Homo sapiens: one gene and its partners. The protein of the gene in region 7 purifies or fractionates together with the protein of the main gene of each other region. This does not show direct contact. Each region holds a gene or a part of one and is shown on either strand. Other genes may lie near its edges.

Region 1 (3,942 bases), on a different chromosome or scaffold from region 7:
CTGAGCACCAGAATTCGAGATAGTTTTAAAAAAATCTGTTCACAAGGCTTTGAGCTATTCTCAACTCCAAACTTCAAGAACTGCTTTGAATCAAGCCTAAGCCTCAGAGTACAGAGCTCTGGCAAAGAATGGATAAGTTAGCATACTTCAACAAAGCCAGGAGGGAATTTCTGAGCTACCTAACACATCAATACATTTCTCTGTAATCCTGACAGAAAATGTGTGTGTGTGTGTGTGTATGTGTTACGCATAGGTGCACATGTACATGCATTTGTGTATCTCTTCTGTTAAATGCCTGTTCAGAGTCAGGTTCAACTGGTCAGCGCTTACTACATAGTCTGGCATGTATGCAGCAAGTGTATTTTTAACCGGATTTTAAAATCTTTTTAGCTTTATATGTCTGGGCATTGATCAAGTGAGTTCGCTAAAAAAGGCTAAGGCCAGGCACAGTGACTCATGCCTGTAATCCCAGCACTTTGGGAGGCCAAGGCAGGCAGATCTTGAGGTAAGGAGATTGAGACCATCCTGGCTAACACGGTGAAACCCTGTCTCTACTAAAAATACAAACAAAAATTAGCCAGGCATGGTGGCAAGCGCCTGTAGGCCCAGCTACTCAGAAGGCTGAGGCAGGAGAATCACTTGAACCCAGGAGGCGGAGGTTGCAGTGAGCCAAGATTGTGCCATTGCACTCCAGCCTAGGTGACAGAGTGAGACTCCGTCTCAAAAAAAAAAAAAAAGAAAGAAAGAAAGGCTAAGTGGTAGACTGCAAATATTCTCAAATCAAATATGTAGACTGATTCCTCCTGAAGGGAAATATGCCTGAATTAAAAAGGAATCTGGCCAAATTACCTTTTTAAACTGACCTTTTTAAAAAAAATCCATCTAAACAAAATGGCTACTCCTGGGATTGTTATGGTAAAAACATAGCTGATAAGTTTTCATTGTTCATTTGTTCATCTTTTTATTCATCAGTTAGCATCTGAGACTGCTGAAAACGATCACTTCCCACACTCTCAATATTCATCAATACACATCAGTCACATTCAATGCAAGTTCCTATTACACGAATTAGTGTGATATTTGTTATAAAAGAAAGCATAGTGTTATATAAATTCTTTTTTTTTTTTTTTTTGATACAGAGACTTGCTGTGTCACGCAGGCTGGAGTGCAGTGGTGTGATTTCGGCTCACTGCAACTTCTGCCTTCTAGGTTCAAGTGATTCTCCTCCCTCAGCCTCTTGAATAGCTGGGATTACAGGTGTGCTCCACCATGCCTGGCTAATTTTTGTATTTTTAGTAGAGACAGGGTTTTGCCATGTCTGGTCTTGACTTCTGGCCTCAAGTGATCTGCCCACCTCAGCCTCCCAAAACGATGGGATTACAGGCATGAGCCACTGTGCCTGGCCTGTGTTATAAATTATTTGTCCAACTTTTGAAATAATGTGAACCCTCCTAAATTTAAACAAATGAATAAACAGCTGGAGAAATGAGTCAATTTTAAACTGCTTACACTACAACCATTTCCTGGTGCCTAGTGTAAGCCAGTTAGCTAGTAAACAAATATATCCACTGCTATAGTCTGAATGTTGGTAGTATCCCCCACTTAAATTCTTATGTTGGAATCTAATGCTCAATATGACAGTTTTTAGAGGTGGGGCCCTTAGGAGGTGATTAGGGCATGAGGGTTCTGGCGCTTATAAGTGGGATTAGTGCCCCAATAAAAGAGGGTTGGGGAGCTTTTTGCCCTTTTGCTATGTGAGAACACAGCAAGAAGGCACCATCTTGGAAGCAAACAGCAAGCCCTCACCAGACACCTAATCTGCTGGTGCCTTGATCTTGGACTTCAGTCTCCAAAACTGTCAGCAATAAATTACTGTTGTTTATAAATTATCCAGTCTAAGGTGTTTTGTTATAGCAGTCTGAATGGACAAAGATATCCACCATCCTTATTTGTGAATAAGGCTGTCATTTCTATGAATGAGATCCCCTGATATGAAAGATGATTACGCAAATTCTTTAAAACCTGCTGTTACTATTATTAAAAATCTGTTTCATTGCTGGTGCTAGTGCTTTGGGAAACCCTCATGAAAATAAAAACTTGGGCCAGGCATGGTGGCTCATCCCTGTAATCCCAGCACTTTGAGAGGCCAAGGCAGGTGGATCACTTAAGGTCAAGAGTTCGAGCACAGCCTGGCCAACATGGTGAAACCCTGTCTCTACTAAAAATACAAAAATTAGCCGGGTGTGGTGGTGCATGCCTGTAATCCTAGCTACTCAGGAGGCTGAGGCAGGAGAATTGCTTGAACCCGGGAGGCAGAGGTTGCAGTGAGCCGAGATCATGCCATTGCACTCCTGACAGAGTGAGACTCCATCTCAAAAAAAAAAAAAAAAAAAATAGCCAGGTGTGGTGGCAGGCGCCTGTAATCCCAACTACTTGGGAGGCTGAGGCAGGAGAATCACTTGAACCCAGAAGCTGGGAGGTTGCGATGAGCCGAGATCGCACCATTGCACTCTAGCCTGAGCAAGGAGAGTGAAACTCCATCTCAAAAAAATTAAAAACAAAGGAGTTTCCTTGCTATAGCTCATGGACAAGATCAGATCATTCCACATTGCTCCAAGACTAGAAAAGAAAGCAGATAACAACTTTTCTTGGTTTGAGCCTTCTAAATCTTATGAAAGCCAAAAGAACTCAATGGGAGCCACAGAGAAATCATATAAAAAATAAAAATAATAATTTAGAATATATATATATATGTGATTTTTTCTTTTCTTTGAGACAGGGTCTCACTCTCACCCAGGCTGGAGTGCAGAGGCGTGATCTTGGCTCACTGCAACCTCTGCCTCCTAGGTTCAAGTGATTCTCCTGCCTCAACCTCCCAAGTAGCTGGGATTACAGGTGTGCACTACCACGCCCGGCTAATTTTTGTATTTTTAGTAGAGATGGGATTTTGCCACATTGGCCAGGCAGGTCTCAAACTCCTGAACTCAAGTGATCCGACTGCCTTGGCCTCCCAAAATTCTGGGATTATAGGTGTGAGCCACTGCATCCAGCCATATATTTTTTAATACTTAGAAAACAGATGAGTTAGGCCGGGTGCAGTGGCTCACGCCTGTAATCCCAGCACTTTGGGAGGCCGAGGCGGGCGGATCACGAGATCAGGAGATCGAGACCATCCTGGCTAACACAGTGAAACCCCATCTCTACTAAAAAATACAAAAAATTAGCCGGGCGCGGTGGCAGGCGCCTGTAGTCCCAGCTACTCGGGGGGCTGAGGCAGGAGAATGGCGCGAACCCGGGAGGCGGAGCTTGCAGTGAGCCGAGATCGCACCACTGCAGTCTGGCCTGGGTGAAAGAGCGAGACTGTCTCAAAAAAAAAAAAAAAAAAAAAAGAAAGAAAAAAGATGAGTTACAGCTAACGGATTTTGAAAAGAAGCCAAAAACAAGCTACATTCATTTGAAATGTGTAGGTAGGAACACATAGGTAATGTCTCTATGAAATGATCTTATGATCTTATTTTTCTATAAAAAGTGAGAAAGGTCTATATTAAAAATGCATACCTGACAGGCAGACTTCTACTAGTACTTATAGAAGCCTCTGGGATTAATTTTTTCCATTTAGAGCTCAAAAACTCAATAGATTTCAACACAGAAATGCCTTCTTCTAAAGAAGACTTCATCCAACAAGCTCTTTCATATCGTTGTTGGGACACACAGCCAGCGTCTTTATACCCTAGGGAAGGGAGAAAGAGAATATAATGAGAAGTGTGGTTTTTAAAGCAAATTTTTTTGTAGAGACAGTGTCTCACTATGTTGCCCAGGCTAGTCCTAAACTCCTGGCCTCAAGTGATCCTCTTGCCTTGGTCTCTCAAATTGCTTGGATTATAGGTGTGAGCCACCATGCCTGGCTGGATTGCAGGACTCAGGAAAGAGTTACCTCGCAGT
Region 2 (3,154 bases), on a different chromosome or scaffold from region 7:
GTATGGTATGCAATACTGTAAAGCAAATGAGTTCCAGATAAAAACAGACATGGTCTGTTTCCTGATTCACCAGTTGCTTGACACTGGTATGTCACTTATTAATTGTACCTGCACTTACTCATTCTACCTTCATTGCCAAGCCAGTCCTCTGTGTTCTGAGTCTATTTGCCTAAACATTCAGGAAAAAACAGTACAGATAATTACATGTATTTTGGAAACCACACTTGGTTTGTTGGTTGCCTGTAATTGACTATTTAAAGTGCATTTTCTAAGCCTACTTTAGATAGTGGTCTTAAGAAATGGTCATCATTCTTAAAAGAACTATAAGTGTAACCTGTCTGAAGACTGCTTCAAACTCTGTCTTAAACAATTTTGCTTTTAGTTAATTATTTAATTAAACCAATTAAAGATCCATGGAAAGAGGGAAAAGCTCAACAGGAGAGTGGTTATACTAAGGAAATGCCCATACCCTCCATTTAACAATGCCATGTAGAAGTGTTGTTGTTACTAGGTCAGAGATTTCCATGTGCTCAAATATTTGCCAAACAGGTGAAAAGCCAGAATAATTAAAACAAATTATTTATTCCAAGTTCTACCAGTTTAAAGTTTTTCAGAATTACAGAAGCGAACAATGAAATCAGAAACAAGCTCTCACAGCTGTAGCATTTATAACAAAGTCATTATCTACATGACCTTGATTTAAGAGGTGTAGAGTGTTTCTTTTATTCAGAATCCATGAGGAAAGTTTCGAAGTCCAGATCCAAGTCGGAAACGAGGGCACTTACGAAGTCATCAACAGAAGGACACTTCTGAAGCATACCTGCAAACAAAGGAAAGGTCAGAACTGCGTTCACCAGGAGGCAACAGGAAGCACAAAGACACAAAATCAAATCCACACACTAGAGGAACACTCTGGCTTTCTGAATTAAGACTCTGGCTGTATAACCTGAATGCAAGAACATTTTATAAAGTCATGGGCAGTGTGTGGGCCTTGGAGCTATTTATAATTTTAATGTATTTTTACTATCAAATCCATCCTTAGCTTAGAGATTTAGGCCTAAATATATTTCCTAAGGGCTATTATTTTTGCATATATGACTATACCCTTAGAGACTGATATTAGAAGACTGATTTTTTTTTAGTTATCTTTGACTGGGATGATTCACAATTTAACAAGTTTAATTACATATCAAGTTTTGTTATCAAGTTCTATACACTTTACAATCAATTAGATGTTAATTCTTTTATAGAAATCTTATATCAGAATCAAGTTATTGGCTCTCCTCCAGATTTCCCTGTCCCAGAGAACTCCTAGCTTTGCAACTTAGTAACTGTGTAACGCAGAAGTCACTTAAAATCTCTGGCATCCAAATTTCCTACAAGGTTGCTATAAGGATCAAACAAGAAGATGTAGTAGAAGCAATGAAGCACCATGCCTAGCATATATTAAGAATTCAATAAAAAGCTGAATTCATGTCCTTTCTTCACTCTAAAGAAGCCAAAAACAAAGATTGATGCAATTAACCTTATTGCTTTAACCTACATTCTTGGCAGGAAATGCTAACTGAAGGGTTGAACAGGCTCTATATACTGATATTTACTTTGGGAGATGAATTCTGTAAAACCATTTTCAAAATCAAGGCATTAAAAGATTGCAGGAATCCTCTATTGTTCTCTGAACCTGTATTGCAATTCAGTGAACATGAAGGAAGCATCTGTTGTGTGTAAAGGATCAGGCCAGGTCATGGGCATACAGGTGGGCAGGCTCAGTCACAACATGAAGAGTGAGAGTAGTCGGCTGGGCAGAACTGCATATCCATACGGCAGAAAACTAGCCTTGACTCCTACTGCATACCATACATAAAAACTAATTTGAGATGGTCACAGACCTAAGTGTAAACACTAAAATTATTATCTTAAAAAAACCGCATGAAGTATCTTTGTGACCCTGAAGTAGGTATAGTTTCTTAGGACACAGAAAGCAATGCATAAAAGGAAAAAATGTTAGATTTCATCAAAATTTAAAATGTCTCTTGAAAAGAAACCATTAAGCCAATGAGTAGACAAATGATAGTTGGAAAAAATACTCACAAAACATATCTCACGTAAGACTGGTATCCAGAAAATATAAAGAACTCCTTTGACCCATTGTAAAAATATGTTTTTTTAAATTACAAATTGACAAAAGATTTTACCTTCACAAGGTCAGGTTTTTCACAGAAGATATCTGAATAAGTAACACAACTAATAGGCACTGAGAAGACATTCAACATCATTAGTCACTAGGGAAATGAAAACCAAACCCACAATGAGATACTATTACACATCCACCAGAATAGCTAATTTTTTTTTTTTTTTTTTTTTTTTTTAAAGACAAGGTCTTGCTCTGTTGTCCAGGCCTGGACAACACAGCATGTGCAGTGGTGTGAACATGGCTCACTGCAGCCTCGACTTCCCAGGCTGAAGTGATCCTCCCGTCTCAGCTTGAGAGTAGCTGGAACCACAGGTGTGTGCCACCATGCCCAGCTAGTTTTTAAACTTCTTGTAGAGATGGGGTCTTGTCATGTTGCCCAGGCTGGTCTTGAACTTCTGGGCTCAAGCGATCCTCCTGCCTTGGCCTCTCAAAGTGCTGGGATTACAGGCGTGAGCCACTGTGCTACACCAAATGTTGACAAGGCTGTGTGCAACCTGAATTGTCATACATTTGTGGTGAAAGGATAAAATGATACAATCACTTTGAAAAAAGGTCTTAACCAGTGTCTTACGAAACTAAACATAGACCTACACTAGGACCCAGCAATTTCACTCCCAGGTATTTATCCAAGAGAAATGAAAGCATATGTCAACAAAGAAACAACTTGTACAACCCCAAGCTTGAAACAACCCAAGTTTCTATCAATAGGACATGAATACACACACTACAATATATTCATATGATGGAATATTACTCAGCAACAAAAAGGAACAAACTATTCATACATGCAACAACACAAACGGATCTCAAAAACATTATGCTGAGTGAGAGAAGCCTTATGTGAAGCAGTACATACTGTTTGATTCCATTTATATGAAGTTCAAAAAGTTAGTCAAACCAATCTATGGTGAAAAAAATCAGAACTGTGGTTGCTTTCGGGAGTGGATATTAGAATCAACT
Region 3 (3,942 bases), on a different chromosome or scaffold from region 7:
AGTGCTGGGATTACAAGAGGGGGCCACTGCACACAGCCTTTTCTTCATATCTTCAGCCCCCTCACTGACAACTCTCCTCTTCTCCACTCTCATTTCAGCAAATGATCCTGCCTCATGAAGAATTCAGATAATTGATACCATGGGATGGGAAGAGCCTCAACTTCCTGTTACCATGCCTACAAACTTCCTTGCATCTACCTTCAGCCTTTCCTTCCACCCTGGATACAATGGCAATGGTGATCCCTTCTATGAAGGCTTCTCAATCCTACCTTAAACCTCTCCAGGAACTTCCCTTTACAACAACTTCTCCCTCCAAATAGACTTCCTCTCATCATAGCATTTATTTTATTTTTCATTTTATTATTATTTTTCTGAGATGGAGCCTCACTCTGTCGCCCAGGCTGGAGTGCAGTGGTGCGACCTCGGCTCACTGCAACCTCCGCCTCCTGGGTTTACAGGTGCCTGTCACCACGCTGGGCTAATTTTTGTATTTTTAGTAGAGACAGGGTCTCAAACCCCTGACCTCAGGTGATCCACCTGCCTCAGCCTCCCAAAGTGCTGGGATTATAGGCGTGAGCCACCGCCCCCAGCCTGTTTTATTTTTACTTTTTGGGACGGAGTCTTGCTCTGTTGCCCAGGCTAGGGTGCAGTGGTGTGATCTTGGCTCACTGCAACTTCCCAGGTTCAGCGATTCTCCTGCCTCAGGCTACTGAGTAGTTGGGACTACAGGTGTGTCCTAACACCTCACCCGGCCAATTTTTATATTTTTAGTAGAGATGGGGTTTCGCCACGTTGGCCAGGCTGGTCTCGAACTCCTGACCTCAAGTGATCCACCCACGTCGGCCTCCCAAAGTGCTGGGATTACAGGCGTGAGCCACCACACAGGCCTCATTTATTCATCTTCTAACTCCACCCTCAGGCCCTACTTTACTGAAAATGGTCCTTTGAAATCCAGCAGCCTTTTTACTAAATCCAGTGGACACTTTTCAGTCCTTTTTTCCCCTTGGCTTCTTTTTTTTTGAGACAGGGTCTCACTCTATCACCCAGGCTGGAGTGCAGTGGGGCGCAATCTCGGCTCACTGCAGCCTCTACCTCCTGGGACCAGGTGATCCTCCCATCTCAGCCTGCTGGGTAGCTGGGACCACAGGCACAAGCTACTGCACCCGGCTAATTTTTTTTTTTTTTTTTGGTAGACACAGGGTCTCCCTGTGTTGCCCAGATTGGTCTGCCATGTGTTTTCATCCTTATCCCCAGCCTCTGCCTACACTGTTCCCTCCTGAAACACATCTTTACTTGGCCAACACTCACCTTTCAGATTGGAAAGTGATTCCTGCAGGACACCTTTTGTAACCTCCCCGAGTAATGCTAACCCCAGCTAACGTGCTCTCTTGGTACCTACACAGCACAGATCTCGCAGCACTGATATGGCCTATTTACCTTCAGCAGCCCTCACTAGATTGCAGATGCCAAGAGGGCAGAAAGTATATTGTTTTTCTTTATATCCTACGTAAGTTTAAAAATATTTCTTTGTGGCCGGGTGCGGTGGCTCACGCCTGTAATCCCAGCACTTTGGGAGGCCAAGTGGGGTGGATTGCCTGAGGTCAGGAGTTCGAGACCAGTCTGGCCAACATGGCGAAACCCCATCTCTATTAAAAATACAAAAAAATTAGCCGGGTGTGGTGGCGTACACCTGTAATCCCAGCTACTCGGGAGGCTGAGGCAGGGGAATTGCTTGAACCAGGGAGCTGGAGGTTGCAGTGAGCTGAGATCACACCACTGCATTTTAGCCTGGGTGACAGAGTGAGACTGTCTCAAAAAAAAAAATTCTTTGTATCTATTAAATATTTACTAAAACAAAGCAAAAAATAAATAAATACAACACTAACCAGGGTCCCAAGCTTACCTTAGGTCCATAGAAGGCACCATCTCCAGAGTTGAGGTCCCAGGGTTCTCCAAATTCCTTCAGGGCCTGTTTAAGGACCTTTGAAGGAATGAGACAAGAGTGGAATACATCATCTTAGACTTCAAAAGCAACACATCCGGTCAGTCCCCAACAAATGACCCACTCACCAGATGCCTCTGAGAACCTTGATTACTGTATTCTCCACTCCTTCCCACCAGAGAGTGGTTTATCTGCCTCTATTTCTCTACCTCCTACTCACCTGTTCGGCCTGGTCCCAAAGGCAAGGGTCCCCCAGGAAGCCAGATGGCCGGGTGGACAGTGCCAGGCGGAAGGAGAAGCCAAGAACGGCATAGACGGAACGGAGGAAATCAAGACAGCTTTGGATCTCTGCTTCCAGCTAGGGGCAGGAAATAAGGGTCAGTGAGCTGTGAGCCCGCTAGAGATCAGGGATGCTGGCAGTTTGAGGAAAACAAAGGGCAAAAACAGAGAGGAAGCGGAAGCAAGCTGGGGGTAGAATGTAGCTGAATTATAGTACATACAGGGGGCAAATAAAGATCAGGGGTTTGCAGGTTCATAGGGAGAAAGAAAGGTGGTTTAGAAAAGCTTTGGTGGAGCCAGGGAAAGGCCACCTGATCTGTTGTACAGAAGATGTGAGCGTCATCCTGCTGGAAGCACCGCAGTCGGGTCAGTCCCCCCAGACCACCAGAGGCTTCGGCCCGGTGTAGAGCCCCAAAGTCAGCTAGTCGCAGGGGCAGTTCCCGCCAGGATCTGGGCCGGTGGGCGAACATCAGGCTGAGGTTGGGGTGCAGAGGGGTCAGGGCCATAGGGAGGACTAGCCCCCGAAGACTGCTCCTCCACCCAATCTGCTTGCCTACTTTCTCTGCACCATCTGCTATAACCCTCTCCAGCCTCAGCACATCCTCCCACTGAGTCCTGTCAATCCCACTCATCACAGTCTGAGCCCTGAGGTTCAAAAGTGGATTTCTCAGTAACACAATAACAGACATCGTTTACCATTTCCCTGTTCTGTGATGGTCACTGAGCTGAAGGAGGAGCCTTAGATAGCAACTTTAAGGAGACTGAGACCTAAAGAGGTAAAATGAGTTTCCCAAATTTACATGGTTAGCTAGGGGGAAGACTGTAGGCTCAAATCGGTGTCCCAATACTCTTTCCAAGGTGCTTTCTTTTTTTTTTTTTTTTTGAGATGGAGTCTCGCTGTGTCACCCAGGCTGGAGTGCAGTGGCGCGATCTCGGCTCACTGCAAGCTCCACCTCCTGGGTTCACGCCATTAGCCTGCCTCAGCCTCCTGAGTAGCTGGGACTACAGGCGCCCGCCACCGTGCCCGGCTAATTTTTTGTATTTTTAGTAGAGACAGGGTTTCTCCATGTTGGTCAGGCTGGTCTCAAACTCCCGACCTCAGGTGATCCGCCCGCCTCGGCCTCCCAAAGTGTTGGGATTACAGGCGTGAGCCACCGTGCCCGGCCCCAAGGTGCTTTCTATTATTTAATATTTAGCAACCTGATTGTAACCCTAGCTCCCAGCTTACCAGTGTGCAGGGCAGTTCATAGGCTTGAGGGCGAGTGTATCTGTGATATGCCTGGTAGAATCGTCACTCTGGGAGCTGGGAGGCCTGTCAGAGCCTGGGGGCTGCACGGCAAACATGTCTTCCTGATAATGCTCCCAGTGCCCTGACTGTTCCCAGAGCTTCGTAGAAAACAGTGTGGGAGTTTTCACCTCGGAGAAACCACGATGGGCATACTCAGCCTGGAGAGGAGGGTACAGACATGGAAGGTCAGAGTAACTGGAAGGAAAGCAGGTAGGGTGTCAGCTGTGTGATCTTCCTGGGCCCTCAGGCCATGCTGATTGCAACCACAACCTATTAAATACCAGGTCCCATCTCTATGCTCCCCGACTGCAGACCACACAATTGTAGTATTAAAGGTCACCAGCACTTTCAATATTTATGTTTATGATTCCAAACCAGCCCCCCCACCTTTTTTTTTCTCTTCAAGACGGAGTCTCACTGTATCACACAGGCT
Region 4 (4,324 bases), on a different chromosome or scaffold from region 7:
GAGGCAGGAGCTGGGTCCATGGTCTCCCTGCCAGGGAAGCCGCAGGTGGAGGGAAGGCAGAGGGCGGCAGGGGCTTCACCCTGGCCCCTGATGAGGGAGGGGCAGAAAGAATGGGGCGGCACCTGCCACAGGCTGTGTGTGGGACTTTGCTGGCAGCAGCAGGCGCGGTGCCACGGCTTTGGGGACCAGCTGGTCACCAGGAGTCCTGCCATCCCCTGGTGCCTGAGAGAAGCTGGGCCACCCGCCTGGGAGCAGCTCCTGGCAGCACCCCTGTGTCTGGCTGGGGTCAGAACTGGTGACTTTCCAGATTCAAGCCAGCCTCCCTAGGAGGTCAAAAGCACCAGGCATGTAGAGGGGCTTCTGACCCAGCTGGTGGCAGCCTGCTCCCAGGGCACCTGCTCCTGGGTCTAACTTTTGTGGCATGGGGCCGCCCAGCAAGGGGCAGGGTGTGTGGGGTGGGCGCTGCCAGCCACGTGGGACTGTGGTATCCTCATGGAGCTCAGTCACGGTGAGTTCGCAAACAGCACCCCCCGGCCTGTGTCTCCAGAGGCCAGGTCAGCACCAGAGGCCAAGATGGGGAATAAACTGGGCTTTAATGGGGAGGGAGGAGAGGATGAGTTCCCTCCAGGACGGGCTTGTTCTCGGCTGGTGGAGCAGAGGGGAACCAGGGGCCTGGCTGGGCACTGGCGGACTGTGTGCACGAAGGCCGACCAGCCTGGCACAGGGACCAGCTGGAGAGTCACTCGTGACTTTAGAACACGGCATTCAACCGCATGTCCTTGGAGCACCGTATTCTGGTCAACCGGCTGGTCAACGAGCTCCAGGCTTTCTGTAGTTTGTGGTCAACGAGCTCCAGGCTCTCTGCAGTTTCTGGTCAATGAGCTCCAGGCTTTCTGTAGTTTGTAGTATTGTCAGCAGAAAGTTACACTCATTATTTCGAAAGCATGATATACTGATGTATACTATCGGATAAAGCAAATGATTATGTAAGCTTTTTAGGAATCAAAAGTTTCAGGATTAAAGGAGAGAGATGCAAATGTAAAATTAGTGGAATTAAGTAAAAATTTTGCTATGTTAAATTTGACCTTTTCCCAACAGAAGGCATTTCCTTAGCTACCAGCAAGGCCTAGACACAAACGTCTGGACTGTAGTCTCTGACTGCCGTTCCCTTGGGTCCAGGCCTCTGGCGGGAGGGCGGGACCCCTTCCTCTGACTGTTCCCGGGGTCAGGCCATGGGGATGCACAAGGCCACACCGTGAGGCAGGAGTTCGGGTGGGGCAGGGCCGTGGACTGGGGCACCCACCAGTCCTGGAAAACAGGGCTGGGACGCTGCTCTGTGGCCTCAGACAAGCTTGGTGGGCGACATGCTCAAGTGAGCAGGGGCCCCAGGCCACGTCCAACTGTCCGCGAGGCATGTGAGCCTGAGATGGGGCTGGTCTCCTGTCAGAGGCACGTGAGCCTGAGATGGGGCTGGCCTCCTGCCCGGCACACTCGTTTCTGGCCACTCTTTCAGACGTGCATTCCGGGGGCAGAATGTTCTGGGTAAGTTCAGGCCAGACACTGCTGGGCGATGACTGTTACTTCCCCCAGGCTGTGGGGAGGAGGCAGCCTATTCTTCTGAAAATTGTCCAGAAACTTCTGGATTCTGCATGTGGCCCCTGTGCATCTGAATTGGCCCCGCTAAGTAAATGCAACGTGGGTGCACCCAACATTCACAACACACCTTCCTGAGGTTTCTGCATCGGCCACGCCTGTGGGCTCCGGAGCTGGGTCTGGGGAAAAGCTGGTGAGCCACAGACATGAAATGGGGGCCATGGGGCAGGTGGGGGTCTGGGTGGAGACGGTGATGGGAGAGAGGGTTCACCGGCTGAGGGGCTGGTGTGGAGATGACCTGGAAAGTCCCTGCGCTGGGGGGTGAGGCAGGGTCACGGCAGAGCAGCTCCGGGGCCATCCGTCCACGCACTTTCTGTGACACATGCTGATGGACACACAGTAGTGTGCAGGGTGGCAGGTGTCCCCACAGTGGGAGCTGCTCTCCTCCAAGAGCAGCACCAGGAAATGCACGGAACCCATGGGACAGGGCTGGTTCTGGGAGGCTTGTGAACCCTCAGCTCCTCCCAGGAGGGCCCCCTGGGTGGCTGCCCAGACCTCCTATGTGGGCCGGGAGACACTGGCTCTGGGTGAGGCACAGGCACGTGCAGACGGCGTGGGACAGGGGCTTGTTTCCTCCAGTGGAGTCTTTGTTTTTTGTGGGAAACCTCTGGGACCTGCCCTGGAGAGCCTGGCAACTGCAGGGCACTGTGGGGCGGGAGGTGCCTCAGCACGTGGGGCCAGGGGCTGGCTGCACCGCGCTGCACAGATGAGGTCGGCGGTGACCAGGCAGAGGTGACACCAGGGACGGTCTCCTTGAGCTGCAACAACTGGCCCGAGGCTGGGGACCCCACATGGTGATTTCATCCCAAACAGTTCTTGATTCTACGTGACCTGATTTGGGGGGTTCAGGTTTAAGGGAGGCCAGGTCTTGGACGGGCCCCCGTGGTTCTCGGTGTGAAGGGGACGTCTGCTGCTCCCCACCAGACCCGCAGTCCCAGTCTGCCGGGTCATGAGGGGTGGAAGTGCCTGATGAGCGCCTTCTTGTCAATCTTGCCCATCTGGTTCCGCGGGATCTCCTCCACCAGCACCAGCTCCGAGGGCACCGCGTACGGGGCCAGGACATTTCTGCAGAGACAAGCACAGCCTGAGGCGCACTGCCCTGACAGTGCCCAGCAGGAGGAACTCAGGCGCCCAGCAGTACGGACAGGTGCCCCTGGGACCCTGCAGCCTTGCCAGGCGCCTCGGCCATCCTGAGGCCAGGCAGGTGCACCGGGCCACCGCAGCTGTCTCTGCCCTAGCAGCCCAGGGGTGGTGACTGCAGGAGGTGCCCGGCATGGTGTTATCACTGGTACCACAGAAGCCATGGTGCGTGCAGGCCTTGGGCGAGGGCACACCTGAGGATAGGCCTGCACAGAGTGGCCTGCAGGGCAGAGGGGCCCCCACACCGGGCCAGGCCTTCCAAGTCCCCGCACTGGAGCTGGAAGGCCCCATTTCACTCTGTGGCCCGTTCCCCTTCCAGAGGAGGCGTGCGGAAGAGGCTGGGGAGTGGGTGGGCAGGTGGGGCAGGGGCAGTCTGCCCTGTATGGGGTATTTGAGATGGGAGTAAATGCCGCACAGTCCTGCAGACACAAGCCTATGTGGCAAGAGGCCTCACAGAGCCCTGCACGGCAGGGACGGCCCCTAAGGTTTGAAACCTCCACTCAGGGTCCCCCTTCCTCATGGGCGAGAACTCGGTGGGTGGTGCCAGGGCGGTGGGCGGTGCTGACACGGGTGGGTGGGGCCAGGGCACTGCCAATGCAGGCGGGCGGGGCCGAGGGCAGTGGGCAGGGACGAGGCGCTGGGATCTGAAACTGAGACTGCAGTGGTGCTCGGTGCTCCTCCATTCACCATTAAAGAAGGGAGGAAAGAAATGAAATTAACCCCCCAAAGGGAGGATGGTTGTGCCGCCCACCAGTGATGCCCTGAAGGCAGCGGCCGTGGCCCAGGCGCAGGAGGGGCTGGTCCAGGGCGTCCAGGCTGCACTGAGCCATGACAGAAACGAACCTTCATGGCGATTGTTCTGGTTACTGTTCCGCGGAAAAGTCCAGAAACCAAGTGTCGTGGTTTCTTGACGCTTTTTGTGGAGAAAGTGTCGCCTGCCGTCCAGACGCGGCCAGAGACCCAGCACAGTCCCCCTGCCCACCTGCCCCTGCCCGTAGGCCTCTCGCGACAGAGGTGGGAGTCGGCCCAGCCCAGTCTCTCGCTCTCCAGGGGCAACTGGCTTCGACCTCGGTGTCGCTGTCAACCTCGACCTCCACATTTCCAAATCGCATTTTTCTTTTTTTCTCTTTTCTTTCTAGGACAGGATCTCACTGTTGCCTGGGCCAGAGTGCAGTGGTGCAGTCATGGCTCACTGAAGCCTCGACTTCCTGGGCTCAAAGGATCCTCCCGAAGTGCTACAGGTATGCGTCACCTTACCTGGTTCCAATGTTCCTATCAAATTTATTTTGGCACGTATATATTTTATAGTTGTATAAAACTATGACAGGCATTTAAATGGAGATGTAATTTACACCCAGCTGTCCTATGTACAGTGTGGTGAGGGATGTGTAGATTTTTTTTTCTTTTGAGACAGAGGCTTGCCCTGTCGCCCAGGCTGGATTGCAGTGGTGCAGTCTCGGCTTGCCGCAACCTCCGCCTCCCGGGTTCAAGCGATTCTCCTGCCTCAGCCTCCTAACTAGCTGGGACTACA
Region 5 (4,124 bases), on a different chromosome or scaffold from region 7:
GGCGGAACTTGCAGTGAGCCAAGATCGCACCACTGCACTCCAGCCTGGGTGACAGAACAAGACTCTGTCTCAAAAAAAAAAAAAAAAATTATCTGGGCATGATGGCTCACACCTGTACTCCCAGCTACTCAGGAGGCTGAGGTGGGAGGATCACTTGAGCCCAGGAGGTGGAGGCTGCACTGAGCTGTGACTATACCCCTGCACTCCAGCCTGGGTGACAGAGTGAGATCCTGTCTCAAAAAAAAAAAATCATGCTGGACCAAGGCCCCCACCCATCCCCCGAGGACCTCCACCAGGAGGACGTGGCCTGTCCACACAGAGGCCCTGGCTAGGCAGGCGGGCTCTGCAGGGCAGCGGGTCAGAGGTATGTTTCCCCCTCTGAGCAGGATCCGAGGTCCTCGACACCCACAGGGACAGGAGGGGCCCGTGGATACACCTCGGTCAGGCCCAGCTGCTGAGGGCCTCCAGGGCCACCAAGGGTTATGAGTTGCCCGTTCCATGTCCAGGCCTGCCCTGTGCAGCCGGTGGGAGCTCAGCTGCCACCAGACAGTGCATGGGGACAGGAGGCACAGTGACAGTCACAGTAGTGTCAGGCCCGGCCACACTATGGCCCCAGTGGTCCAGGGGCTGTGGGAATGGGATGCACAGGCCCTTCACAATGGGCTCTGAAAGATGATTTTCCAGTAACAGAAGCAAAGAGAAGGTTGCAACCAATTCAGATTTTTACTGGACATTCATGACAGAATGAGATGTGCATCCAGCTGCATCGCCCAGCCCATCCGCTGCCCAGGGCAGCTGACGAGCAGAAACACACTCTGCAGTGGCCCTTGTCCGTGCCGGGGCCCTCGCCCGCAGCACCGCACGTTCTTTGTAGGAGCAGAACCCGAAACTCAGAGCACAGCTTGCCCTGATAACTGTCTTCCCAGCTGGCAGCCCTCTAGAAGATGTGGGAAATGACACATTCCTGTCCAGACACAAGCCACAGTCACCCCCCTCCCGAGGGCGTCCACGGCCTGAGGGACCCGGCTCCATTCAGCAGAGCCGCAGCGCTCAGGTCCTCTCGGCAACCCACGATCACGGCCCACGTGGTCCTGCCCGTGCCCCCGCTGCCCACGCCCCCTGCTGCCCACGCATGCCCCCCGCTGCCCACGCATGCCCGGGGAACGAGCAGCAAGCAGGCAGAACCACCACCCAGCGCCTGCTCCCCAGGCCGCAGCAGGCAAGATGGGGCCAGGGGCCACCACGCAAGTGAGACCCACCCCGCTTCCACGTGGGCAAAGCTGCCGCCACCCCGGCCTGTCCAGGATGGCTGCAGAGGCCCCACCTCGCCCTGCAAAGGAGGGTGCCTGCCACGCCCCCCACTCTGCCAGATGCTCCTGCCCGAGGGCCTGCGTCCGGCAGTTCCCCAGTGCGGGCTCCCAGTCCCTTCAACCAGGTGCCTGGTCCCCTGCCCACTGCCGGCTCATCCCTCAGAGCCACCGCAACACCCCCGCCCGAGAGCCACCCGCCGACCCCCAGTGGGCCTTGGCAGCAGCAGGAGTGGCCGTCAGGCCTGGCTGGGCAGCGTCTTGTAGGGGTTGAGGATGCCCTTGGGGTCCAGCAGGGCCTTGAGCTGCTGCATGAGCTGCAGGGCCCCCGGTGGCTTGCTGTAGCCCAGGACGTCCCTCTTCCTGAAGCCCACTCCGTGCTCCGCGCTGACGCTGCCCTGCTGCCCGGCCGTCCACTCGTACACGTGGGGCTCCAGGGCAGCCAGGAGCGAGGGGCTGAAGGCCTCCGCCGTCACATTGAGGTGCAGGTTACCATCTCCTGGAGGGACAAGGGCACATGGGTCAGGCTGGGCAGGGCAGCCCCCAGGACCCCACTCCTCCCCCAACAGCCCCTCCCAAGATCCCCTCCCCAGCAACCCCGAGACCCCCGGCTGAGCCTCACCCTCATGCCACTCGCCCTGGACGTGCCGACCCCTCCTCTGGGGCCGCTGCTACCTTGGCTTCTCCCTGCTTCTCTCCCCAAGTTCTCCCCCCTCTTCCTACTCCCTCAGCCCGGGGCTCCCATCTCCCCAACTTCTCCCCCCTCTTCCTACTCCCTCAGCCCGGGGCTCCCATCTCCCCAACTTCTCCCCCCTCTTCCTACTCCCTCAGCCCGGGGCTCCCATCTCCCCAACTTCTCCCCCCTCTTCCTACTCCCTCAGCCCGGGGCTCCCATCTCCCCAACTTCTCCCCCCTCTTCCTACTCCCTCAGCCCGGGGCTCCCATCTCCCCAACTTCTCCCCCCTCTTCCTACTCCCTCAGCCCGGGGCTCCCATCTCCCCAACTTCTCCCCCCTCTTCCTACTCCCTCAGCCCGGGGCTCCCATCTCCCCAACTTCTCCCCCCTCTTCCTACTCCCTCAGCCCGGGGCTCCCATCTCCCCAACTTCTCCCCCCTCTTCCTACTCCCTCAGCCCGGGGCTCCCATCTCCCCAACTTCTCCCCCCTCTTCCTACTCCCTCAGCCCGGGGCTCCCATCTCCCCAACTTCTCCCCCCTCTTCCTACTCCCTCAGCCCGGGGCTCCCATCTCCCCAACTTCTCCCCCCTCTTCCTACTCCCTCAGCCCGGGGCTCCCATCTCCCCAACTTCTCCCCCCTCTTCCTACTCCCTCAGCCCGGGGCTCCCATCTCCCCAAGTTCTCCCCCCTCTTCCTACTCCCTCAGCCCGGGGCTCCCATCTCCCCAAGTTCTCCCCCCTCTTCCTACTCCCTCAGCCCGGGGCTCCCATCTCCCCAAGTTCTCCCCCCTCTTCCTACTCCCTCAGCCCGGGGCTCCCATCTCCCCAACTTCTCCCCCCTCTTCCTACTCCCTCAGCCCGGGGCTCCCATCTCCCCAACTTCTCCCCCCTCTTCCTACTCCCTCAGCCCGGGGCTCCCATCTCCCCAACTTCTCCCCCCTCTTCCTACTCCCTCAGCCCGGGGCTCCCATCTCCCCAACTTCTCCCCCCTCTTCCTACTCCCTCAGCCCGGGGCTCCCATCTCCCCAACTTCTCCCCCCTCTTCCTACTCCCTCAGCCCGGGGCTCCCATCTCCCCAAGTTCTCCCCCCTCTTCCTACTCCCTCAGCCCGGGGCTCCCATCTCCCCAAGTTCTCCCCCCTCTTCCTACTCCCTCAGCCCGGGGCTCCCATCTCCCCACCTTCTCCCCCCTCTTCCTACTCCCTCAGCCCGGGGCTCCCATCTCCCCAACTTCTCCCCCCTCTTCCTACTCCCTCAGCCCGGGGCTCCCATCTCCCCAACTTCTCCCCCCTCTTCCTACTCCCTCAGCCCGGGGCTCCCATCTCCCCAACTTCTCCCCCCTCTTCCTACTCCCTCAGCCCGGGGCTCCCATCTCCCCAACTTCTCCCCCCTCTTCCTACTCCCTCAGCCCGGGGCTCCCATCTCCCCAAGTTCTCCCCCCTCTTCCTACTCACTCAGCCCGGGGCTCCCATCTCCCCAAGTTCTCCCCCCTCTTCCTACTCCCTCAGCCCGGGGCTCCCATCTCCCCAACTTCTCCCCCCTCTTCCTACTCCCTCAGCCCGGGGCTCCCATCTCCCCAACTTCTCCCCCCTCTTCCTACTCCCTCAGCCCGGGGCTCCCATCTCCCCAACTTCTCCCCCCTCTTCCTACTCCCTCAGCCCGGGGCTCCCATCTCCCCAACTTCTCCCCCCTCTTCCTACTCCCTCAGCCCGGGGCTCCCATCTCCCCACCTTCTCCCCCCTCTTCCTACTCCCTCAGCCCGGGGCTCCCATCTCCCCAACTTCTCCCCCCTCTTCCTACTCCCTCAGCCCGGGGCTCCCATCTCCCCAACTTCTCCCCCCTCTTCCTACTCCCTCAGCCCGGGGCTCCCATCTCCCCAACTTCTCCCCCCTCTTCCTACTCCCTCAGCCCGGGGCTCCCATCTCCCCAACTTCTCCCCCCTCTTCCTACTCCCTCAGCCCGGGGCTCCCATCTCCCCAACTTCTCCCCCCTCTTCCTACTCCCTCAGCCCGGGGCTCCCATCTCCCCAACTTCTCCCCCCTCTTCCTAATCCCTCAGCCCGGGGCTCCCATCTCCCCAAGTTCTCCCCCCTCTTCCTACTCCCTCAGCCCGGGGCTCCCATCTCCCCAAGTTCTCCCCCCTCT
Region 6 (3,942 bases), on a different chromosome or scaffold from region 7:
CAAGAGATAAGGAAGACAGAGAGAAAGGAAAAACCTTTCCCAGACAGGGAGTGGCAGGGCCATGATCTCAACCTGGGTAAACTAATTCCCAAGCCTACAATCTTACTGTCTACCCAATGTTGCCATTAGGTCTTCTGCTCTTGGAGAAATGGAAGCACCATCTTCCAGCTAAAAAAAGAAGGGATGTGGTTTGGGAACTGGATGAGAGGTTTGCTTCTCCCTTGCTTTATGATTGAGAGCTACTGTACTTTTTAAATAATAAATGATTTGGGGGCCAGGCGAGGTGGCTCATGCCTGTAATCCTAGCACTTTGGGAGGCTGAGGTGGGTGGATCATGAGGTCAGGAGTTCGAGACCAGCCTGGCCAACATGGTGAAACCCCATCTCCACTAAAAATACAAAAATTAGTTGGGCATGGTGGCGGGTGCCTGTAATCCCAACTACTTGGGAGGCTGAGGCAGGAGAATCGCTTGAACCCGGGAGGTGGAGGTTGCCATGAGCAAAGATTGTGCCACTGTACTCCAGCCTGGGTGACCCAGTGAGACTCCGTCTCAATAAAATAAATGATTTGGAGAATACTGACAAATCTTGAAGTTATCACATTCAGACTATGAAACCTAGATTTGGGGCTGAGGCATATACACTCATTAAGCAAAGTTGGAAATAAACTTTTGTTAGCACAAACAATATGAAAACCTCAATGCACAACAGTGCATTGAGTTCATATGTGCTGTTGCGGATCTGTACTCCTCCTAATTAGCTATTTTCTTCTTACTTTATGGCTACTGTAGGTTTGTGGGTTGTTTTTTTTTTTTTTTTTTTTTGAGACAGTCTCACTCCGTAACCCAGGCTGGAGTGCAGTGGCACGATCTTGGCTCACTGCAACCTCGGCTTTCCAGGTTCAAGTGATTCTGCTGCCTCAGCCTCCCGAGTACCTGGGACTACAAGGCGTGTGCCACCACATCTGGCTAATCGTATTTTTAGTAGAGATGGGGTTCACTATGTTGGCCAGGCTGGTCTCAAACTCCTGATCTTGAGTGATCTGCCTGCCTTGGCTTCCCAAAGTGCTGGGATTATAGACATGAGCCACTGTGGCTGGCTTACTGTAGGTTTTGTTACTGACCATGTTTACCATGGTTCCTTTGGCTTCCTGGGAAGCTGCAGCTCAACAGCAATTTTCTCCCTACACTTAGAATAAAATCTAGGCCTCTTGCTTGTCTACCAGGATCTGCAAGGTCCTCTGCATTGCGGTTTCTGCCTTCTCTCTAATCTCAGAGCTTATTACTTTCCCTCTTGCTATTATAGCCCAACTGGCCGTGTTGCTTTCCTCAAACACATGCCAAGCTTATGCCTGCCTCAGGGCTCCTTTGGGCTCCTTTTTTTTTTGAGATGGAGCCTCGCACTGTTGCCCAGGCTGGAGTGCAGTGGCGCGATCTCGGCTCACTGCAAGCTCCGCCTCCCGGGTTCACGCCATTCTCCTGCCTCAGCCTCCTCAGTATCTGGGACTACAGGCGCCCGCCACCATGCCCGGTTAATTTTTTGTATTTTTAGTAGAGATGAGGTTTCACCGTTAGCCAGGATGGTCTTGATCTCCTGACCTCGTGATCTGCCCGCCTCGGCCTCCCAAAGTGTTGGGATTACAGGCTGAGCCCGGCCTGCATCGGGGCTTTTTAAATATTTCGTATTATTTGGGATGGTCTTCCCACCACCTCTCCCCATTTCTCAAATAACTCACTCCTCATCGAATCTGCCCCCTCAGAAAGGCTGTTCCTGACCACCCCATTCACAACCCTCTGACCTATCCCTTACCTAAATTCTATCTACCTTGCTTTATTGTCCCCATAGTACTAATCACTGCCTGGAATGACATTACCTGTTTGTTTATCTGTTTATTGTAAATTCTAAGAGGGCAGGGACTTTGTCTTTTTCACTGCTCTTTCTCCAAGAACATAGAAGGTGCTCCTGTTTGTCAAGTATTTGCTAAATGATCTACTTAGGATCTTATGGCATGTATTCGGTGTACTAATCTCACTCCTGACTTAACTTCCCTCCACTTCTCCTTTATCCTGATTTCCTCATCTGTTTAAGTTTATCCTGCCGTAGAAACTGTAGTGTTTTTCTTTTTTAGAAGAAACCGTAGTTTTGTAAGTTGTCTCAAATCTTTTTTTTTTTTTAATGAGGGTGAGTATACACATACACATGCATTTAAAAGATAGGTTTAAAGTAGGTAACTAACAAGCAGATAGATGTCTGCAGCACAGTATAATTCACCTATTACCTCCAACACTTACATGTCATCAGCAAAAAAACAGCTGGCTTGCTTTTGCACCTCTTCCATCTCATCCCGACTCCACTGGGAACTCCGTCTTAGCATGTGCTTCCGGCCTAGGACCAGCAGTCGCAGATTCCGTTTGGCTAGTTGAGAGACGACATTCAAGAGCTAAAAAACACAAAGCCAGAACCACAAAAGTTCAAGGGAAGACTCTCAAATTAGTGGAGTGATTTTTCCAGCAGGCCACCTCAATGGTGAAGCACTCTTTTCTGGTAGGGGGTAAGAAAACAATCCACAATAATTTCCCATCTTTGAAAGCCTGAGGAAAATGCTTCCCTATTACACATTAATGTCTAACATCTGCCTGCTGGTCAGGCTACATTGCAGGGGGGGGTTTCTTTATTTTTGTGTGTGGGACAGGATCTCATTCTGCTGTCCAGACTGGAGTGCACAGGTGCAATCATAGCTCACTGCAGCCTTGAATTCCTGGGCTCAAGCAATCCTCCCACTTCAGCCTCCTGAGTAGTTGGGACCACAGACGTGCACCACGTCTGGCTAATTTTTTTTTTTTTTTTTTGAGACAGAGTTTCACTCTTGTTGCCCAGGCTGGAGTACAATGGCGAGATCTCAGCTCACTGCAACCTCTCCCTCCTGGGTTCAAGTGATTCTCCTGCCTCAGCCTCCCAAGTAGCTGGGATTACAGGCATGCGCCACCACAGCCAACTAATTTTGTATTTTTAGTAGAGACGGGGTTTCACCATGTTGGTCAGGCTGGTCTCGAACTCCTGACCTCAGGTGACCCACCCGCTTCAGCCTCCCAAAGTGCTGGGATTACAGGCATGAGCCACCATGCCTGGCCTAATTTTTTTTTTTTTTTTTTTGGTAGAGATGGGATCTCACGATCCTGCCCAGGCTGGTCTTGAACTTCTGGCCTCAAGAAATTCTCCTGCCTTGGCGTCCCAAAGCACCTGGATTACAGGTGTGAGCCACTGCACCCAGCCTAGTTCAGCTGTTTTAAACTGTGCTCTCTAGGGCCCACTAGGATAGAGATAGAGAGGCTCAAGAGGGATGGGATTTTGTTTCCTATACATGTCAAACCTTGTTTCGACCCAAACGGCTCAACCTTTATATATTTATCATATTGGTATTCTACATAAGTTTTGATTTGAATAAAAGCTTCTACTTCTTTTTAAGTTTGTAAATGATTAGACTAGACAGTGACTTTTCTATGTTATGACTTTATTGCTAATACTGCCTCCTTTCATTGAAATCCCCTTTTCTACTAAAGATCTGTCGATTTCTACCCTGTAGCCTACTTTCCAGTCAGTTACTTTATCCCCATTCTCTCCACTTCCCACTGGCCTCCACTTCATTGTGTGCACATGAACTCCTCAAAGGTCTAGACTTGGGTTTTAGAAGTCTAGTACTTTGGTGAGCTTGCCTATACTCAATTTTTCATAAGGAAAAGTACATAAATTACTTTTATGTACCACCTATTAAACTAAGCTATAAATGGATATTACTAAGTAAAACAAAAGCTGAAAAAATTATAACTTGTATTATATAATCATGTATCAGAAATATAAAAGATCTTTATGAGAATTGGTGGGCCCACAAAAATCACAAGTTGAAAGGTCTTGCAGAAATCCTTTATTTTCTTGGGTCTTGGTT
Region 7 (3,942 bases):
AGCACTCTTGGAGGTCTCTCTAAACTCCTGCTCTGGCAGCAGGGCCCCTCGCCCATGCCCAACACCAGGGGCGGGAGGTGCTCACAGCCTCACCTCCTGGGCCCGGCCCTGGGCCGTCCACCCTGGCAGAACCACAGGCCACTTCCCCAGGCCCTCCCACTGGCCTTTAACACGCCTCCTTCAGTTATGTGCCTGTGGATAAAAGAATCAGGCCTGTCTGCTTCCTTTGAAGTTGCTGGCTGGAGTCACACATGTCTTTTCCACAGAGCATTCTTCTCTCCCGGCCTCCTGGGCTTCTGAGCTCTTCCAGGAGGCGCACATGGTCCTGGGAATAGGCCCCGACAAGCTGCCTGGAGGTGGGCCCAGTGATGCTCCTGATTCGGCTACACAGCCCCAAGTTCAAAGCCTGCTCCAGATGAGCCTGCCCTCCCCAGCCCTGGGTTTCCTCATCTCTCGCACCCAGGCTGATGGCTGCCTTCCTTCTGGCTCTGGATCTGCCAGGACACGGTGCGTGGAGGCTGCTCTACCCCACAGCAGGTCACGACCCATGACAGTACTGATTTTTCACCCCATCAAACCTGTGATGTCAGGTCGGATCACCCTGTGGTGGACTGAATGGTGGCCCCTAAAAAGAGACGTCCACCAGAGGCCGGGCACGGTGGCTTACGCCTGTAATCCCAGCACTTTGGGAGGCCGAGGAAGGCGGATCACGAGGTCAGGAGATCGAGACCATCCTGGCTAACACAGTGAAACCCCATCTCCACTAAAAATACAAAAAAATTAGACGAGCGTGGTGGCAGGCACCTGTAGCCCCAGTTACTTGGGAACCTAAGGCAGGAGAATGGCGTGAACCCGGGAGGCATAGCTTGCAGTAAGCCAAGATCACACCACTGCACTCCAGCCTGGGTGACAGAGCAAGACTCCGTCTCAAAAAAAAAAAAAAAAAAGATATGTCCACCAGAGCCTGCAAATGTCACCTTATTTGGAAAAAAGGACTTTGCAGATGTAAGTTAAGCATCTTGAGATGCAGAGATCATCTTAGATTATCCCAGTAGGACCTGAATCCAACGGCAGGTAGAGTCCAGGCGCGAGGGCTCATGCCTATAATCCCAGCAGTTTGGGAGGCGGATATGGGCGGATCACTTGAGGTCAGGAGTTCGAGACCAGCCTGGCCAATGTAGTGAAACGGTATCTCTACTAAAAATACAAAAAAATTTAGCGGGGCATGGTGGCGGGTGCCTGTAATCCCAGCTTCTTGGGAGGCTGAAGCGTGAGAATCGCTTGAACCTTGGAGGCGGAGGTTGTCCTAAGCTGAGATGGCGCCATTATACTCCAGCCTGGGCAACAGAGTGAGACTCCATCTCAAAAACAAAACAAAATAAACAAAGAGGCAGGTGGAGGGAGGTTAAATAGAAGAGGGCGGGGCCATTGACGGCGAGGCTGAGATGGGAGAGGTAGAGCCACCAGAGGCTGGGAGAGACAACGGATTCTCCCCAAATCCTCTGCCAGATTTCGCACTTCTGGGCTTCAGGACTGTGAGAGAATACATGTCTGTTGTTTTGAGCCACCTGGTTTCACAGAATTTGTTACAGCGGGCTCAGAAAACTATTATAAGCCCATTTTACAGACCAAAAAACTGAGGCCAGAAAGCAGATAAATCTGTGCAAGGTCAACCTAGGAGTCAATGGGAAGCCAGGGTCTGACCCTAGGCCTAGCCAAGGCAGGGGGTTCAAGGGAGGGGGCCTGGCAGGGGCAGCCTGAGGGTGCAGAGCTGACAGTGCTCACTTCCCAGGGACCACTGCCTGGGCTGACCCTTCCTTTTTTTTTTTTTTTTCTTTTTTTTTTTGTAGTGGAGTCTGTCTCTGTCACCCAGGCTGGAGTGCAATGGCACCATCTCGGCTCACGGCAACCTCTGCCTCCCAGGTTCAAGCGATTCTCCTGCCTCAGCCTCCCGAGCAGCTGGGATTACGGGCACCCACCACCATGCCCAGCTAATTTTTGTATTTTTAATAGAGACAGTGTTTCGCCATGTTAGTCAGGGTGGTCTTGACCTCCTGACCTCAGGTGATCCACCCACCTCCGCCTCCCAGAGTGCTGGGATTACAGGCATGAGCCACCGTGCCCGGCCTTGGCCCTTCCTTCTGACCACGGAACCCTCAAGCTCCAGGATGTCACTATGGGAGAGCTCCCCCGAGGCCAGGACAGAAAGGAGACACAGATGGCTCCAACCCTCCACCCCATGCCTAATGCTGTGTCTCGGGCGGGTACAGTGGTTAGAGCCAGGGTTTGGGGTTGAGGTTGCATCCCGGCCACTTTTTGCTGGAGCATCTGGGGCAGGGGTCGTGACTCCTCTGGATCTGAGTCTCTTCATTTGTGAATGAGGCTCCCCGATCCTTCCTCTGGGGGCTCCAGTGACCACAGAAAAAGACAAGGGGAGTAACTTGCCCTGCACAGGGGTCGACCACAGCATCTTTTGGAAACACCCTCCCTCCGGCACCCTCTGCCTATACCCCCAGCCCCATGTGCAGAGCGGGTAAAAGGAGCTCACAGGTAGGAAGGTAGGGAGGCAGCATGGCTGGGGGCAGTGGGATGGGTGGGCAAAGGGGTTAAAGGCAGTGTTTAGTTTTTATGGTTGTTGTTGTTGTTGAGACAGGGCCTTGCTCTGTCACCCAGGCTGGAGTGCAGTGGTGCGATCTCGGCTCACTGCAACCTTCACCTCCCAGGCTCAAGTGATCCTCCCACCTCAGCCTCCAAAGTAGCTGGGACTACAGGCATGTGTCACCATGTCTGGCTAATTTTTGTATTAGTAGAGATGAAGTTTCATTATATCACCCAGGCTGGTCTCAAACTCCTGGACTCAAGCAAACCGCCCGCCTCAGTCTCCCTAAGTGCTGGGATTACAGGCGTGAGCCACCATGCCTGGCCAAGGCAGGGGTCTTTATAGTTACCCCAGTCTGCGGTGAAGAGAGGGAAACCGAGGCAGGGCCCCTGAAGGTGCGTGCACCTGGGGGCTGGTGTCTGGGGCCACATCATGCTCCCACCTGTGGTGTGTATGTGTGTCAGGCCCCTGCCTTCCTACATCCGTCCCCCTGCCATTCCCTGCTGCCCCTCCAGGACTCCAGGAGCCTGGCTCACCCTTCAGCTTCTCCCCAAACATGGTCAGGAACACCGTGAAGTTGATGGGTCCGGGGGCCTCCTTCACCATGGCCTCCAGTTCCTCGTTCTTGACATTGATGCGGCCTGTGGGAGGTGAGAGGTGGGGGCAGGGAGGATAAGAGAGATCAGAGCTTGGGCCTCGGAGGATCCCACAAAGCCTCCCCACTCAGCTGCTCCACGTGCCCCCCACTCAGCCCTAAGGCCCTGACGCCTTTTTGGGGGACTCTTTAGGGGGCATTTGGGCCACAGTCAGCTTCCGGCTGCCCCCAGCCTCATGAGAAGGGAGCAAGTCACTCTCATCCCCATTTTACGGTGAAGAAACTGAGGCCCAAGAAGCTGCAGCTGAGGTGCACGGGGGCTGCAGGCTCAGGGTTCCTGTGCCCCAGGAGGGGATCAGTGGATGCCTGGATGCTGGGATTCCCTGTGGTTCCAGGGGACACTCAGATTCCCAGGGGATCAGGGCCTGGTTACGTCCGTTCTGCCACCTAAACCCTGCATAGGCGACTTCAGGCTCTTCCCTGGGGCCTTAGAGGGATCAGAAACCTCAACCTGGGAGTTGGGTCTTTCCCTCTGACTCAGCTTCTCCCCTGCTTTCCTGGCCCCTCCCCACACCCAGGGTCCCCTACACCAGGCCCAGGCCCAGGCCCAGGCCCATGCTGCTACTCCTGTCCCTGAAGTGTTTTCCCCTTCCCTGGCCGAATCCTTCTCCAACCCCCCAGGAAGGTCCCCCCCTGACTTTCCAGACAGTGGCTGCCTTTACCCTGTGCTCCCCAGCACAGGAGCCTC

The links.
Region 1: the proteins of MYL10 (region 7) and MTO1 purify together in Homo sapiens (affinity purification with mass spectrometry; one large-scale study listed by BioGRID and IntAct). This does not show direct contact.
Region 2: the proteins of MYL10 (region 7) and MIPEP purify together in Homo sapiens (affinity purification with mass spectrometry; one large-scale study listed by BioGRID and IntAct). This does not show direct contact.
Region 3: the proteins of MYL10 (region 7) and TARS2 purify together in Homo sapiens (affinity purification with mass spectrometry; one large-scale study listed by BioGRID and IntAct). This does not show direct contact.
Region 4: the proteins of MYL10 (region 7) and ACSF3 purify together in Homo sapiens (affinity purification with mass spectrometry; one large-scale study listed by BioGRID and IntAct). This does not show direct contact.
Region 5: the proteins of MYL10 (region 7) and D2HGDH purify together in Homo sapiens (affinity purification with mass spectrometry; one large-scale study listed by BioGRID and IntAct). This does not show direct contact.
Region 6: the proteins of MYL10 (region 7) and PRORP purify together in Homo sapiens (affinity purification with mass spectrometry; one large-scale study listed by BioGRID and IntAct). This does not show direct contact.

Annotation. Positions count from the first base shown.
Region 1 is NC_000006.12:73,482,237-73,486,178, reverse strand, and holds part of MTO1 (5-taurinomethyluridine-[tRNA] synthase subunit MTO1, mitochondrial), read right to left. Parts: coding exon 3,935-3,942; intron 3,731-3,934; coding exon 3,559-3,730; intron 1-3,558. UniProt on the Homo sapiens protein: Component of the GTPBP3-MTO1 complex that catalyzes the 5-taurinomethyluridine (taum(5)U) modification at the 34th wobble position (U34) of mitochondrial tRNAs (mt-tRNAs), which plays a role in mt-tRNA decoding and mitochondrial translation.
Region 2 is NC_000013.11:23,729,626-23,732,779, forward strand, and holds the end of MIPEP (mitochondrial intermediate peptidase), read right to left. Parts: intron 821-3,154; coding exon 723-820; 3' UTR 564-722; downstream 1-563. UniProt on the Homo sapiens protein: Cleaves proteins, imported into the mitochondrion, to their mature size.
Region 3 is NC_000001.11:150,497,255-150,501,196, reverse strand, and holds part of TARS2 (threonine--tRNA ligase, mitochondrial), read right to left. Parts: intron 3,668-3,942; coding exon 3,450-3,667; intron 2,696-3,449; coding exon 2,533-2,695; intron 2,301-2,532; coding exon 2,163-2,300; intron 1,982-2,162; coding exon 1,904-1,981; intron 1-1,903. UniProt on the Homo sapiens protein: Catalyzes the attachment of threonine to tRNA(Thr) in a two-step reaction: threonine is first activated by ATP to form Thr-AMP and then transferred to the acceptor end of tRNA(Thr). Also edits incorrectly charged tRNA(Thr) via its editing domain.
Region 4 is NC_000016.10:89,152,484-89,156,807, reverse strand, and holds the end of ACSF3 (malonate--CoA ligase ACSF3, mitochondrial isoform 1 precursor), read right to left. Parts: intron 2,719-4,324; coding exon 2,601-2,718; 3' UTR 575-2,600; downstream 1-574. UniProt on the Homo sapiens protein: Catalyzes the initial reaction in intramitochondrial fatty acid synthesis, by activating malonate and methylmalonate, but not acetate, into their respective CoA thioester. May have some preference toward very-long-chain substrates.
Region 5 is NC_000002.12:241,765,392-241,769,515, reverse strand, and holds the end of D2HGDH (D-2-hydroxyglutarate dehydrogenase, mitochondrial isoform 1 precursor), read right to left. Parts: intron 1,807-4,124; coding exon 1,547-1,806; 3' UTR 705-1,546; downstream 1-704.
Region 6 is NC_000014.9:35,265,224-35,269,165, reverse strand, and holds part of PRORP (mitochondrial ribonuclease P catalytic subunit isoform 1 precursor), read right to left. Parts: intron 2,440-3,942; coding exon 2,291-2,439; intron 1-2,290.
Region 7 is NC_000007.14:101,618,961-101,622,902, forward strand, and holds part of MYL10 (myosin regulatory light chain 10), read right to left. Parts: intron 3,241-3,942; coding exon 3,136-3,240; intron 1-3,135.